Linked DNA regions of Homo sapiens: region 1 is linked to region 2. Evidence: fine-mapped expression QTL. A gene starts in region 2. The other region holds a variant in brackets. All regions are shown on one strand. Distances are between the middles of the regions.

Evidence for each region.
Region 1: its variant is fine-mapped to the expression of ZNF573 in whole blood (INTERVAL, PIP 0.99).

The regions. Positions count from the first base shown.
Region 1 is chr19:37,615,176-37,618,100 of GRCh38, reverse strand. No RefSeq gene overlaps it. Among named protein-coding and RNA genes, the nearest start is that of ZNF540, 22 kb to the right of the region's middle. The variant C/G (reference allele first, on the strand shown) is at 1,517.
Region 2 is chr19:37,778,196-37,781,120 of GRCh38, reverse strand. It overlaps ZNF573 (zinc finger protein 573), which reads left to right and starts at 1,535. Exons shown (of 5, transcript NM_001172690.2): 1 at 1,535-1,577. RefSeq lists enhancers at 721-1,383, 1,242-1,591, 1,298-1,592, 1,384-2,047.

The DNA.
Region 1 (2,925 bases), 160 kb after region 2:
ATGATCTAATACCAGTGCTTCCTCTATTTCAGGTATTCTCCATTGTTCCTAATTCACCAAAAGTTGTTTATATTTTCGGGAGCTGTTTATATGTGTGTGTGTATATGCATGTGTATATAATAGTCCCAATACCATTTATAAAAATTTAGGGCTGGCTGCAGTGGCTCACACTTGTAATCCCAGCACTTTGGGAGGCCAAGGCGGGTAGATCACGAGTTCAGGAGTTCGAGACCAGCCTGGCCAACATGGTGAAACCCCGTCTCTACTAAAAATACAAAAATTAGCCGGGTGTGGTGGCAGGCACCTGTAATCCCAGCTACTCAGGAAGATGAGGCAGGAGAATCGCTTGAAACCAGAAGGCAGAGGTTGCAGTGAGCCAAGATCGCACCACTGCACTCTGGCCTGGGTGAAAGAGCAAAATGCTGTCTCAAAAAAAAAAAAAAAATTAAATGAAAACATTATTAAAATGCCTTTGCCCTGACAGTTGTTTTCAGGAAATTCTTGTGAACATTAAATTCAAATAAGTCTTTGTGTCTGGTTTGTGTATGTGCATGTGTATATATACATACACCATATCCCATCAAATATAAAATGCTTTGATACTGGCACAAGGCTTATCTTACTAAAAATATCAATGAACGTTTTCACAAGACATTGTATTAGTCCATTTTCACACTGCTATAAAGAGCTACTTGAGATTGAGTAATTATAAAGGAAAGAGGTTTAATTGACTCACAGTTCCACATTGCTGGGGAGGCCTCAGGAAACTTATAGTCATAGCACATGGTGAAGGGGAAGCAAGGCATGTCTTACATGGTGGTAGGAGAGAGAGAGGGGGGTGGAGAACTGCCAAACACTTTTAAACCATCAGATCTCATGAGAACATACTATCATGAGAACAGCATGGTGGAACCACCCCCATGATCCAGTCACCTCCCACAGGGTCCCTCCCCCAACATGTGGGAATTATAATTTGAGATGAGATTTGGGTGGGGCTTTTTAGCATTGATGAAATCAGGAGGTATCAGTGATAGTAAGGCTAATATATATATATGTGTATATATATATATATGATAATGAATCTAGATGATAATAGGACTGTAGCAATTCTTTTTCCATAATTTAAGCTGCATATGTATAGAACCAGAATATTCCAGTGCCTGCACATTTCAGATATATTTACTGAAAAATTGTATCATTTTGCTGACATTTTATTTAGCATTTTGATTTTTCTCTTTAATTAGGACTCATTTAAATTTTGGTTTTTAGTAACTATTCTCTCTAGTTTTATCATTTGGATTATGTCAGCCATGTATCATGAGCTGGGAAAATTCTGGTAACAATTATCCTTGAAGTTTTTATTAAACTAAAACAGATTGTGCTAGCAGACTGTGTTGTTCTAGCTTGTTCTATAGCTTAAGCTGAATTTACGTTTTCCATTTACTAGTTCACTCAAGCATGATTATGTTGTGTAAATTTCAATGAAGTACATTTTCTAGAAAAGACTTCATTAGCT[C/G]TGGAATTTTATATACATTGAAATGATACTACTTTCTTATAATTTGACATCCTAAAAGTAATGGTAATACATATACCCAAAGTACTAAAATCACACCCTAAAAATTAACAATTCCATAGAATCTTATAATATCCATTCCATGTTGAAATTTCCATAATTGTTCCAGGAATATATTTCATAGATATTTAACAAGGATTTACTCTCAGGATCATACATTGTAACATTTTGGTGGTTCTGTCACTTTTTTTTTTGAGACGGACTCTCGCTATGTCGCCCAGGCTGGAGTGCAGTGGCGTGATCTCGGCTCACTGCAACCTCCGCCTCCTGGGTTCAAGCAATTCTCCTGCCTCAGCCTCCCGAGTAGCTGGGATGACATCGATATCTCTGGTAATGTCCTTTTTAAATTCGTGACACTTATAACTGTGTCATCGTTTTTTTCTTTTTACTGGATTTGGAAAAATTGAATAAGTCTATAATCTGCTTATTACTTAATTTCTAATTTTAATTGCATTAACTAGTTCCTTCTTTTAGCATCTGCTTTATTTGGTACCTTTTTTTGTTTCTTGAGTTAAATACTTATTTTTTCCCGAGTTTTATCAAGTGCCTACTATGCAAAAGGCGTCACAGTCGTGTTGAGGATACAGAGAACAAAATGTTCTATCCCCAAATCGTGGTTTTCTGTATGCATTAAGGGATGTTAATTTACCACTGAGTAGAGTCTTGGCCACATCCTACAGATTTCAATATGTAGGCATTTCAATATCACTGCTTTCTGTTAAATCAATATTTAACTTTTGATTTCCAGTTTAATCCATGACTTGTATTATACATGTAGATGATTGTAAATTTGTAAGAGGAGGTGCAAATTATCACCAAATTACTTACTAATTGCAAAGAAAATAACATACCTTTACAATGGAGAGATCTGGCAGTCACTACCTTAACCAAATGTAGCATCACTAATAAAAGGACAACCTGCCATTATATGCCTCCTGTGTGTACAGACTGTATTATACCTATGAAGTATTCTTGCTAAAAATGTTTGACCAGAAGCAAATCAAGCTGCTGTTTAAGTTTCAGTTTGGAGACAGAGGAAAAAGAGGAACAACATTATGCAGAAATAAAATACGACAAACCCAGAATCCAGGATATTCTACGACAACTGTGATGGACTCTTCTAAAAGCCAATAAAATGACATAAAGATGAGGGGCTGTTCAGTTTAAAAGTGACAGAGCAGGCCGGGTGCAGTGGCTCACCCCAGTAATCCCAGCACTTTGGGAGGCCAAGGTGGGTGGATCACAAGGTCAAGAGATCGAGACCATCCTGGCCAACATGGTGAAACCCCATCTCTACTAAAAATACAAAAATTAGCCGGGCGTGGTGGCAGGCGCCTGTAATCCCAGCTACT
Region 2 (2,925 bases):
ATGGAGATTCATCAGAAACTAAAAATAGAATTACTATATGTTCCAGCAACCCCACCGGTGGGTGTATAGCTAAAGGAATTGAAATCAGCATGCTGAAGAGATAACTGCACTACCATTCACTGCAGCATTATTCTGCATTGGATACGGAAGCAACCTAGGTGTCCAGCATGTTATAAGTGGATAAAGAAAATGTTACATATTATATATATTATGTATATAACCTTATACACATATATATATGTATATATAAAGGAATACTATTCACTTTTTAAGAAGAGGAAAATCGGCCGGGCACAGTGGCTCGCGCCTGTAAATGCAGCATTTTGTGAGGCCAAGGTGGGTGGATCACCTGAGGTCAGGAGTTCGAGACCAGCCAGATCAACATGGTGAAACCCTGTCACTGCTAAAAATACAAAAATTAGCCGACGTGGTGGCGCATGCCTATAATCCCAGCTACTTGGGAGGCTGAGACACAAGAATCGCTTGAACAGGGGAGGCAGAGGTTGCAGTGAGCTGAGACTGTGCCACTGCACTCCAGCCTGGGTGACAAGAGCGAAACTCCGTTTCAAAAAATAATAATAAGTAAATAGATTTTTAAAAAATAAATAAAAAATAAAAATAAAACAAGGAAAATTCTGTCATCTGTGACAACATGGATAAACCAGGAGGACATTATGCTAAGTGAGAGAAGCCAGTAACAGAAAGATAAATACCAAATACCACATAAGTGGTATTTGTGGAATCTAAAAAAGTCTAACTCTTAAGAGGCAAAGAATGGTGTTTACCAGAGACTGAAAAATGGGGAAAAGGGAGATGTTAATTAAAACAGTACAAAATTTCAGTTAGTCAGGAGAAATAAACTTTGTTAATCGATTGCATAGAATAGCAACTACATAAATAATGTGTTGCATGTTTCAAAATTGCTAAAAGTAGATTTTAAATGTTTTCACCACAAAAAAGTGAGGTGATGGATTTAATTAGCTTGATTTAATCATTTCGCATTGTAAACATAGATCAAAACAGCATATTGTACCCTATCAGTATATAAAACATACAATTATTATTTGTCCATTTTTAAAAAGTTACTTTTCTCATACCTTATAACAAGACTGGACTTCCTCAGGGGACACAGAGCAGAGTCCCCGCCCTCGGGAGCTCATAACCGATCCCCCACGCTCGCCCTCGCGGCCACACTTTGAAAGCCCTCCCCTACCGGCTCTACACTCAAACAGCCCGAGGCTTCGGGCAGCCTCGAGTTCGGATTCCACTTCTCAGCCTTCTGGGGTCACTGAAACCCTCAGAACTCCGAGGACAAGTCGGACACGCCTTCGCCTCAGCCATCTTCGCCAGCGCAATAAGTCTCTGTGTCTTCACACTCCTGGTAGAGGGAAAACTAAAACCTCCGGGAGCCAGCGTCCGGCGGTGCCTGCAATCTAACCGGGATTTGGGGTTCCGAGCCACTTTTCCCACAAGCCACCGCGGTCATGGAGCTTTAGGCTTAAACTACATTTCCCAGAGGGCAACGGGAACACCCAATCTATGGCTTCCCTTCCGTTTTCGCGTGGTTCTTTTGCAAGGTGGGTTGAACTCATTTCAGTATATAACAGGCACAGAGTACTCGCAGGGAGGGCTCTGGGCAATCAAGTTACGTTGGAGCCCAACCTAAACCAGCCGGGGTGGTGGAGGAAGCCCTTTAACCGTGGAAGCCTCTAGTGTGGACGGCCAGTTGTTATCGGAATCTCAGGCCCGTGGGTGCATGAACAGCAGAGGAGGGTATTTGAGTGCGCACGTGAGAGAATGTTGTATATGTCAGATGGGGAATGTTTGAGAGTGTGTGACAGAGAAACTGCGTGTGAGAGGCTGGGATGTGCCTCCTTGACGGTGGGTGCGGTTGTGAGGCTGTGACAGGTGAGTGAGTGGCTGTGCTTGCGTGACGGGGATATGAGGTGCTTGTCCTTTTCATGTACGTTGATTGCGGTGGCACTGCGGTGTCACTTTGAGTCTTGGCTGTAGGTTCCCGGCTGCTGCTTCTCTCCTCCCTCCTCACAGCTGCTTGCGGCTGACACACACAAAAAATGTCTGCAAGAGGGAAGTTGGATACTGAACTCTACATCAAGTTTTCCAGCAAGAAGGCATTGACTTGCTGTGAGATTGGAAACGCCTGGGAGGTTATTTCTTTGTGAGCTCTGAGAGCGAGCTACCTGTCTCAGAACCTCGTCTTTCCCAGAGCTCTGACCCCAGGAACCTGCTGTGAACTCATACCCAGATTCCAGCCTCTCTCCTACCTCCATGTGTTAAAGTGTGTGAACAGGGAAGGCGTGGAGGGTATTGTGTAAGGAGGCATTCCGTGCTTCAAGGAAAGGCCTGATAACTCATGATTTTTTTCTCCCTCCCTGGTCCTGCTATTCCTCAAAAGGACTCTAATGAGGAGGAAAAAAATTCTTTCACATCTAAAACTCAATGTTTAGGCTAGTTGGCTTTTTTCTTTCCTAAGGTTACTGGTTTTAGAGTATGTTTTACTTCATCTGAAATGTGTCTGAATGTCCTAATACCAATCTGCTTTCTTTCCAGTAGATGTTGGGAGCCATTGAGCTGAATCTCATTAACGTTCTCATATTTGGCCGGGTGTGGTGGCTCACGCCTGTAATCGCACCATTTTAGGAGGCCAAGGCGGACGGATCACTTGAGGTCAGGAGTTCGAGACCAGCCTGGCCAACATGACGAAACCCCATCACTACTAAAAATACAAAAATTAGTCTGGCGTGATGGTGCATGCTTGTAATCCCACCATCTTGGCCAGGCTGGTCTCGAACTCCTGACCTCATGATCCACCCGCCTCGGCCTCCCAAAGTGCTGGGATTACAGGCGTGAGCCACCGCACCCAGCCTTATGTGGATTATTTTACTTCATCTTCAGACTATTTTA